Regions from separate parts of the Homo sapiens genome. Here region 1 is linked to region 2. The links come from fine-mapping of genetic effects on gene expression. Tissue or cell type: testis. Region 2 holds a variant in brackets; the other region holds the start of a gene. All regions are shown on one strand. Distances are between the middles of the regions.

Region 1 (5,145 bases), 350 kb before region 2:
CAGGCAGATATGAAACAGGTGGGCTGGCACCTGGGCACAGTGCTTGCCCCTGCTGCCTCTTCCCTCCCAGGTATGGGAAAAGACACAAAGAGGACACGCTGGCCTTCTCGGAGTGGGGGTCCCCGCATGCTGCTGTCCCCAGGTGAGTTTGACTCCCTGCCCTGTCTGTCCAGCTCCCTGGAGCTGAAATGGGGGTGGTGGGACTGAATCAGGGCTTGGAAAGGTGTAGTGGGGGGTGGAAGAGGGAGAACAGGAGCCCAGGGCCAGCCTGAGGCCTCCTGAGGGCACGAGGCCTACCCCCTACACTGCCATGTTCTGCCCTGTCCTCACAGGGAGCTCAGCCCGCTGGACTTATAATGCCACCTTCTGTCTCCTACGACTCCATGAGCAGCGCCAGCCCAGCTCTCCCCTCTGCACCCTTGGCTCTGGCCAAAGCTTGCTCCCTGCTCCCACACAGGCTCAATAAAGCAAGTCAAAGCCACAGCCTGTCCTGTGTCTCTGTGGACCCCTGGTGGGGGCAGCAGGAAGTGCCAAATGCATGGGAGAGAAAGGGGAGGGCAGGGCAGGGCAGAGGAAAAGGGGATCATCCAGAACGTTGGCGGGGGTCATCAGAGTCACTCAACTCATCCTCTCCCCTTCGCAGAGGGAAAAGTGGTGGCCAGAGGAAGGCAGGGACTCCTCTGAGCAGATGGTCCTTCAGCAAGTCTGTGAAGTGGCAGTCTTGAATCTTCCCAGTTCAGTACCCATAGACCTTCCCGACACAGCCTGATGACAACCCTTCCCCAAGTGCACCCCTCACCAGTGCCTTACTGCAGCCTAGGCAGCAGAAGCACCAAAATTTATACGAAAGCACCCTTGGCATGGGGGCAGGGGCACAGCCCAGCCTGGAAGAACGATTCTGGTGCTATGGCAGTCATGGCTGCATCCAGGGGCCTGAGCTGCCGTCCAGAAATTTGGAGAGAATGGGCTGCCCTGAGAGGTAGTGAAGTCCTGGGCACAGGAGGTATTCAAGCTGCTGTGGAAGGGGAGGAGGCTAGATTAGCTGAGAGTTCCAGCCACCATGAGTTGAATCTGTAGATTGTACACTCCAGCCCTGGGAGGACAAGGACCTGGATCCTGCCCCAGGGAGGACTTCCCAGATTCCCAGAGAACCCATCTTTTCCTGGCCCTTCTCAGGCACCCTGAATAGGTGGGGACAGTGCGCGTGTGCATGCGTGTGTACGCGCATGTGTAAAGGGGAGAAGTGAGGGAACTAGAATGTTTCTGGTTCCTAGAAAGGCTTCTCCTGCCTCCCCCACATGCTTGGTCTCAAGGGATGGGGTTATGGGTTTGGAGGATGAGGGGTCCACTTTCCTGGGCTCAGCACCTTGCACAGAAATGGAAATGACACACAATTGTGTTTCCCCTCAAGTCCTACTCCATCTGGTGTGTGCAAATGACCTGGAAGTAGAAACAGGTCCTAAAAGGCAAAGAGCTTCTAGAGGATGCAGCTGCTTGGCTCAGATTGATTTTTTGTTTGTTTTTGGAGACAGGATCTTGCTCTGTCACCCAGGCTGGAGTACAGTGGCATGATCACAGCTCACCATAGCTTTGACCTCCTGGGCTCAAGCGATCCTCCTGCCTCAGCCTCCCAAACAGCTGGAACTACAGGCACATGCCACCACACCCAGCAAATTTTTTTATTTTTTAGAGACAGGGTCTTGCTATGTTGCCCAGCATGGTCTTAAACTCCTGGGCTCCAGCGATCTGCTCACCTCGGCCTCCCAAAATGCTGGGATTACAGGTGTGAGCCACTGTGCCCAGCCTCAGGTTGATTCTTAAATCCAAAGATGTCTGGATAGAGAGATGGTTTCGCAAAAGAACGGTTTGAGTCTGGGAGAGGGAGCCTGAAGTCCCAGCATTTTCTCTGGCAGCTTAAGGGGATGCGCGGTGAATGGGGAGAGGAGTCTGGGCTGTTTGGTAGAAACTTGAGCCAGGTGGGAGTTGGGGTGTGTCTAGCTGAAGCCCCTTCTTTGAGGTTTCTTCTCTCACCTCTGCTCTCCCTCTGGGTTAGAGCCCCCCACACTGGTGCTGTCTGTGCAGGACTACAGGGGCAATAAGTGTCTTCTCCAGGACCCGTATCTGTGTCTCTACCACGGGGTGGAGGGCCAGACCCACAAGGCCATGTGTGGGTGGAGTGGGGGAAGGTGGATGGGTTGCCAGGGGAGGCAGGGGAGGACCCCCAACAGCTGAGGTCTTTTTCTCTCACAGCAGAAACTACAGGGTCCCACTTCCCGTTCCATGGACTGGTCCCTCCCTGCCCGCAGGCCCACAGAAGTCACTGAAGCAACAAAAATTTGTCTTTATTGTTTTCACTGAGGGGATGAGGAGGGGTCGAGGCCCCTCTCAATACAAAGGGGTTGGTGGGCAGAGAGGCGTCTGGAGGCCAAGGCCCAGCCTGGAGAAAGAAGCCCCCCCCACAGGGGTGCTGTGTCTCCCCGCATGCCCGCCCCCAGGAACTTCCTCTCGCTAGCACCCAAGCTGCCCCCAGCCCCGAGGCCCCTGGCTCGGTGCCCAGCATCCAGGCTGTCCTACCTGGGGCCCCGGGAGGAGGTCGGTGGTCGGGGTTCCGAGGTGTTCAGCCACTGGGGGTTCGTGGTGGTCCATGGTGGGGGTTTCGTGGCTTTTGATGGGGAGGTGTCCGTGGCGTTCGCAGTTTTCTTGTGGTTTTTAGATTTCTTCGGGCTGGGAACAAGTCTTTGCAGTCATGAGGCCGCTCCCCGAGCCCAGCTCAGGCCGCGATGTGCGTGGGGGTGCCTGGTGGCGTCCGTGTCCCCCCCCCGCGCCCCCCCCACCCCCCGCTTTCCTCCCTCCCTCCCTCCCTTCCTCACACCCTCCGCCGGCCCACCTGCTGTTGAAGAGCTTCCCCAAGTACTTCTTGATGGAGCCTAAGTTCAGCCAACTGGCGGCCCTGGGCTGCGGCACTTGCAGCTCCTCGCCGAGGGCGCCCTCGGGCTGCATCAGCAGCGACACGAGGCCCGCTATGGCCAGAGCGAATGCGCAGCGCAGAGCAGGCGTCTGGAGGGGGCGGGGCAGACAGAGCCGCGGGAGGTCACGTGATGCCGGGGCTGTGGTCAGCGCGGCACCCGGACCGGAGCTTGCAGGTGTTCCGCGCGGTGGGCAGGCTGGGGTGCAGGGGCGCTCAGACCGAGGGTCGTGTCTATTTCTGGGACACACACCAGAGCACGGACGCCTTAAGGGACATCCTGGTGCTCGGAGGAATGGTACACACCTGGACATGCCCGGTGATGCAGGCAGAGCATCGAGGCGCGGTGGCTCACGCCTGTAATCCCAGCACTTTGGGAAGCCGAGGCGGGCGGATAACCTGAGGTCAGGCGTTCAAGATCAGCCTGGCCAACATGGCGAAACCCCGTCTCTACTAAAAATACAAAAATTAGCCGGGCGTGGTGGTGGGCGCCTGTAATCCCAGCTACTCTGGGGGCTGAGGCAGGATAATTGCTGGAACCCGGGAGGTGGAGGTTTTAGTGAGCCGAGATTGCGCCACTGTACTCCACCCTGCCCAACAGAGCCAGACTTCGTCTCAAAAAAAGAAAAAAAAAAAAAAGAAAAAGAAAAAAAAAAAAAAAAAAACGAACGAGGAGACACACCCTAAGGTGGACGCATGAGGACGGCATAAAGCCATTGGTCAGCTCCCTAACCTCACTGCCCTCTCTCCCGCAAACTCCTTGCTTATCCCCCTCCTTTCTCCCTGCTGTTCCCGCAAAATGACGGTCACTCTGTTCTCTGCCTGGAAGACTCTTCCTCCAGACATCCTCATGGCCAGCTCTGTCTCCCCTTGTAAGCATTAGCTCAAAATCCACCTTTTAAATGGATCCTACCCTGACACCCCTATTTATAATTGCAACCTGGCCGGGCGCGGTGGCTCACGCCTGTAATCCCAGCACTTTGGGAGGCCGAGGTGGGAGGACTGCTTGAGCCCATGAGTTCAAGACTAGCTTGGGCAAAAGACAGAGAGCCCCGTCTCTACGATTTAAAAAAATAAATAAATAAAATAATATTGCAACCAAACCCCTCATCTTGCTCTTTTTCTTGCTCTATTTTTGCCCTATTTTTTCTTTTCTTTCTTTTTATTTTATTTTATTGTTTTAAGGCAAGGCCTTCTTTTGCCTTCCAGGCTGGAATGTAGTGTCGGGATCATAGCTCACTACAGCCTCAAACTCCTGGGCTCAGGCCATCCTTTTGCTTCAGCCTCCCAAGTAGCTAGGTCTACAGGTGCATACAATCATGCCCAACTAAATTTTAATTTTTTGTAGAGATGGAGTCTTGCTATGTAGCCCAGGCTGGTCTCAAACTCCTGGCCTCATGAGATCCTCCCGCCTCACCTCCCAAAGTTCTGAGATTACAGGTATGAGCCGCCACACCTGGCCTGCACTTTCTAACTTACTATATTCTATACTTATATTTGTTGTCTGAGTCCCTTCCCAGCGGCATATCCTCCCTCAATGTAAGCATCATTAATTACAGCTGGGCTCTTCGCCTATTTTGTCTATTGATGGATCACAAGCACCTAGAATGGTGCCTGGCACTTAGCAGATACTCAGTAATACATATTAAATGAATGACTAACAGTTACACACAGGAAAGCCAGCCTGAGGATTCACACACCCAATGCACAGAGAATTTTGTGCCTGCAACACACAATGATTCACAGACTATGATGCCCGTAAACATGATGCACACTCCCAGAGCTCCTAGGCCCCTCAACCCTCTTTTAACCAGGAACTCTCCTCATCCCCACCACCCCAAGCAGGAATAAGAAGCCCTAGTAGCTATCCTGGCCATCAGAATGGCAGACGAGGCTGCCCTGGCCTAACTCCTTCATGCCCTTAGTGGGCCTGAGGAGGGGCCCTTGGTGCCAGCCCCCATCCCCAAGCTCTTAGAGAATACAGCTGATGGGGGCCCAGACTTGGCCACCAGACATCACCATGGTGCTGGGCAGGTGCAGAGGAGCTCAGCAGAGTGTCTCTGGCCAGGACCTGAGGCCCTTTATATTCCTAAGCATCCCTGCCCCCTTTCCCTCTGAGGCTCCACTCCCAGCATAGCCTTCTTTTCCTCCCTGTGTCGTGACCTGAAAGTCCGGAACGG
Region 2 (5,145 bases):
GGGCAACATGGTGAAACCCCTTCTCTACAAAAAGTACAAAAATTAGCCAGGTGTGGTGGTGCACACCTGTAATCCTAACTACTTGGTGGGGCTGAGATGAGAGGATCACTTGAGCCTGGGAGATTGAGGGTGCAGTAAGCCATGTTTGCACCACTGCACCCCAGCCTGGGCAACAGTGTGAGAAACCCAATTCTGTCACGTTTGGTGGCTGGCTGATGACAGCTGTTCAACAAAGAAACACCAGTGGATGAAGGGAGACCTAATTTCCTAAAGAAGCCAAACCAAAACCTCATGCAACAATTCCTGAGGGACAGGAAGTATCTGCCCACAGCTGTTTTGTCCAGGCTGCTTGGGGCTGCAGTCAGCCAGGGAACCAAGGGAACTGAACCCCAGGGCCCAGTCTTTACTGGCAGCTGCCCATCTTAGAACCCACGGTACAATGGGGGAAGGCCCTAAGAGACAATTAAGGCATTTGCCTCCAACACAACTTAAGGGAGTGCCCCAAAACTCAGAAATCAAGATAGATAACTGATATGGTTTGGCTCTGTGTCCCCACCCAAATCTCATCTTGAATTGTAACTCCCACCATTCCCACGTGTCATGGGAGGAACCCAGTGGGAGGTGATTGAATTATGGGGGTAGATCTTCCTGCACTGTTCGTGTGATACTGAATGAGTCTCATGAGATCTGATGGTTTAAAAAAAAAAAAAGCAGAAGTTTGCCTGCACAAGCTCTCTCTTTTTGCCTGCTGTCATCTGTGTAAGATGTGACTTGCTCCTCCTTGCATTCTTCCATGATTGCGAGGCTTCCCCAGCCACGTGGAACTGTGAATTCTCTATTAAACCTCTTTCTTTTGTAATTTGCCCAGTCACAGGTATGTCTTTATCAGCAGCGTGAAAAGTGACAAATACAATAATACTTTTTTGTTGTTTTTGAGATGGAATCTCACTCTGTTCCCCAGGCTGGAGTGCAGTGGCATGATCTCGGCTCACTGCAACCTCTGCCTCCCAGGCTCAAGCGATTCTCCCACCTCAGCCTCCCTAGTAGCTGGAACTACAGGCATGCATCACCACCATGCCTGGCTAATTTTTGTATTTTTAGTAGAGACGGGATTTTACCATGTTGGCCAGGCTGGTCTCCAACTCCTGACCTCAGGTGATCCACCTGCCTCAGCCTCCCAAAGTGCTGGGATTACAGGTATGAGCCACTGTGCCCGGTCCAAGATAGATAATACTTTAACGCAATTTTTAAAAATCAAAATTGGCCAGGTGCATTGGCTCACGCCTGTAATCCCAGCACTTTGGGAGGCCAAGGCGGGTGGATCATGAGGTCAGGAGATCAAGACCATCCTGGCTAACACGGTGAAACCCTGTCTCTACTAAAAGTACAAAAAATTAGCCGGGCATGGTGGCGGGTGCCTGTAGTCCCAGCTACTAGGGAGGTTGAGGTAGGAGAATGGCGTGAACCCAGGAGGCGGAGCTTGCAATGAGCCAAGATCGCGCCACTGCACTCCAGCCTGGGCAACAGTGCGAGACTCCATCTCAAAATAAAAAAAAATCAAAATTAATGTAAAAATTGATGATGAACAAAATATTAAGATTTCAAATAAACACAAGATCCAACCCTTCCCTCAATATCGTGTCTCATTCACCTCACCCTAATCTCAGTCTTGGTTCCAATAAAACCTTGTTTTAAAAAACAGGCAGCCAGCTCACAGACTGTAGTTTACTGACAACAAAAATATTGCATTAGGCCAGGCACAGTGGCTCACATCTGTAATCCCAGCACTTTGGGAGGTTGAGTCAGGAAAAGTTTTTTTTTGAGATGGAGTCTCGCTCTGTTGCCCAGGCTGGAGTGCAATGGCGCAATCTCGGCTCACTGCAAGCTCCACCTCCTGGGTTTACGCCCTTCTCCTACCTCAGCCTCCCTAGTAGCTGGGACTACAGGTGCCTGCCACCATACCTGGCTAATTTTTTGTATTTTTAGTAGAGACGGGGTTTCACCATGTTAGCCAGGATGGTCTTAATCTCCTGACCTTGTGATCGGCCTGCCTCGGCCTCCCAAAGTGCTGGGATTACAGGCGTGAGCCACCATGCCTGGCCTAGGCAGGAAAATTTTTTGAGGCCGGGAGTTCAAGACCAGCCTGGGAAACATAGCAAGAACCTGTCTCTACAAAAAATAAATAAATTAGCTGGGCGTGGTGGCACATGCCTGTAGTTCCAGCTACTCAGGAGGCTGAGGCAGGAGGATTGCTTGAGCCCAGGAGTTCCAGGCTGCAGTGAGCCATAACTGTGCCACTGCATTCCAGCCTGAGGCACAGAACAAGACCCTGTCTCTGAAAGAAAAAAAAAATGCATTAAATTTTATTTATCTTGATTACTCGGTGCCCCTTACATTTTGGGCCTGTGGTGAGTTCCTCACTCCCCTCACTCTAAATCTGGGCCAGCCAGAGAAGGCCCCTTCCTGGAATACAAGCCCCAGTGAGAAGACCTACAGCCTGCAGAGAACAATGTGCCCACATTAATTCTGCTTGGGATCACAATCATTCCATGTGTGCTGAGGGCTCCACATTGGTCAGTAACCCCTAATGCCCCTGTCCCTTAGATTATCTGATGCCACCATACACCTAGGACGAGTTATTTAAGCTTTCTTTTTTTTTTTTTTTGAGACAGAGTCTCGCTCTGTCGCCTAGGCAGGAGCGCAGTGGTGCGATCTCGG[C/G]TCACTGCAAGCTCCGCCTCCTAGGTTCACGCCATTCTCCTGCCTCAGCCTCCCGAGCAGCTGGGACTACAGGTACCCACCACCACGCCCGACTAATGTTTTGTATTTTTTAGTAGAGATGGGGTTTCACCGTGTTAGCCAGGATGGTCTCGATCTCCTGACCTCGTGATCCACCCGCCTCGGCCTCCCAAAGTGCTGGGATTATAGGCGTGAGCCACCGCGCCCAGCCTGCTGAGTTGTTTAAGATTTCTAAGCTCATCTGTCTCATCTGTAATAGGGAGAGAGGAATGTTAATTTGCTGCTCTTCATGCCAAAGAAATCTAAATTGGCCTGAACCCAGGACCTTTTGCACATCCAATGCATCAGCACTGAGAGCATTGTGCCAGGCATTGTCCTGGGGAAATGTTGACAAACAGGGTGTGAGATGTATTCCCAAGCCCTACTCACCACAGTTTATATTCACAGCCTAGGAAGAGATAGGCCCAGGAGCCAGGTGCGGTGTCTCATGCCTGTAACCCCAGCACTTTGGGAGGCCGAGGTGGGCAGATCATGAAGTCAGGAGATCGATACCATCCTGGCTAACATGGGGAAACCCTGTCTCTACTAAAAATACAAAAAAATTAGCCGGGTGTAGTGGCGGACACCTGCAGTCCCAGCTACTTGGGAGGTTGAGGCAGGAGAATGGCGTGAACCCAGGAGGCGGAACTTGCAGTGAGCCAAGATTGCGCCACTGAACTCCAACCTGGGTGACAGGGCCAGACTCCGTCTCAAAAAAAAAAAAAAAAAAAAAGAAAGACGTAGGCCCAGAAACCAAAATCACTCATTCATTTGTTCATTCGTTAATTTCTTCAGTAATAGGCATCCACTGACTATATATGCCAGACACTGCCAGGCATTGGTTGAGTCAGACATGATCCTTGGCCTCAAAATATTTACAGCCTAGTACAGTGAGATAGATAAAGAAAAATAACTGCAATACGAAGCTATGTGTGCTCTTTGAAGATAAAGGAATGTGGAAATTTAGAGAGGACAACTATTTAGCTGATAGTGGGGAGGGATTTCGCAGAGTAGGACACAAGTAGAATTGTGCGAGACAGACGGACTAGCACTTTTCAGACAAGAACCTGTATGTGCTAAGGCAGAGTGTGAAAGAAAGCATTGTGATTACAGGCCAGGAGGCTGAGCAAAGCATACAGTAAAAGTAGGTGATGGGTCCAGGCCTGGTGGCTCATACCCGTAATCCCAGCACTTTGAGATGCTGAGGTAGGAGGATTTCTTGAGGCCAGGATTTCAAAACTAGCCTAGGCGTCATAATGAGACTTTGTCTCTACAAAACAGTTTTTTTTAATTAAAATTTTTTAATTTAAAATTTTTAAAATTAAAAAGTAGGTGATGGGCTGGGGTGGCAGGTGAAATAAACTCAGCATAGACTATGAAAGGCCTTGAATGCTGAGATTAAAAATGGGATTTTATTCTGTTGGCAATGGGGAGACTCTGGAAGCTTATAGACAGAAGATGGCATGTTTTGATCTGTTTTTTGAAAGAGAATGCTGGCAACCATGGAAAGGAGGGATTGAAACTGGAAGTGTGGGGAGGTAGAAAAGTCAGTTGGGATATTTTGCATTAATTCAGGGAGGAATGATAAAGGCCTGAACCAAGGCACTGCTGGTGGAAACAGAGAGCAGGGATGGAGTTTAGTGAGATTTCTGGTAAGAAGCTATACAACTTAGTGAGTAACTATATGTGCAGGGTGAGGATGAGAAAGGAGTCTAGCTTGATTTCCAGTTTTCTCATTTGGGCAATTTTACATAGTGGTAACCGTATACGAATAGGTAAATACGGGAGGAGGCACAAGTTGGGGAGCAGAAGATGTGCTCGTCTGTGGGATTTGTTGACTCAGACATGCATGGAAGATTGTTCTGATAAAATGATCAGATGAGATATGATATGCTTAGGGCTCAGGGAAAAGTTTAGGCTGGAGATACTGCTGTGTGAGCAGAGGGTATATGAGCCTGGGTGAGCTGACCCGGGGAGAGTTTAGAGGGAGAAGACAGCTGAAGGTGAGAAGCCAACAGTGGAAAGTGGAAGAAATAAGGGAGACCAGGGGGCAGCAAGGGAGATCTGGGAGGAAGAGCAGGAAAGAGTGACATCCAGGAGACCAGGAGAGCTTATAAACGAAAAGAGGAGAAAGGGTTCCACCCACCAGAGCGAGAAGAGCATGAGGACAAGAACCAAGCCGTAGTTTGAAGACAAGTTGGCCATTGATGACTTTAGCAAGAGCAATTTCAAAATTGACCAAAGTCTGCACCTCATTAAACCACAGATCATTTCCATGGAAGGGTGGAAAGCGAGTTGAGGAATCCATGGGAGGTGAGGAAGTGGAGGCAGTGAGTGTGGACAGCTCCTTCGATAAGTTCTGGGGAAAGA

Which allele goes with the higher level. Alleles are on the strand shown, and positions count from the first base shown. SD is a standard deviation of normalised expression in the study named.
For the expression in testis of the gene that starts at base 3,024 in region 1, C is the low allele of the variant in region 2 and G is the other (moderate effect, 0.57 SD a copy in GTEx).

The links. PIP is the estimated chance that this variant, and not a neighbour inherited with it, causes the effect.
Region 1: it holds the start of LINC01976, and the variant in region 2 is fine-mapped to the expression of LINC01976 in testis (GTEx, PIP 0.96).

Annotation. Positions count from the first base shown.
Region 1 is chr17:43,936,140-43,941,284 of GRCh38, reverse strand. LINC01976 (long intergenic non-protein coding RNA 1976) reads right to left here and starts at 3,024. Exons shown (of 2, transcript NR_136406.1): 1 at 2,888-3,024; 2 at 2,323-2,724. PPY (pancreatic polypeptide) reads left to right here. Exons shown (of 4, transcript NM_002722.5): 3 at 71-142; 4 at 333-481. The coding sequence ends at 357. RefSeq lists an enhancer at 2,738-3,238.
Region 2 is chr17:43,583,481-43,588,625 of GRCh38, reverse strand. No RefSeq gene overlaps it. Among named protein-coding and RNA genes, the nearest start is that of ETV4, 40 kb to the right of the region's middle. The variant C/G (reference allele first, on the strand shown) is at 2,719.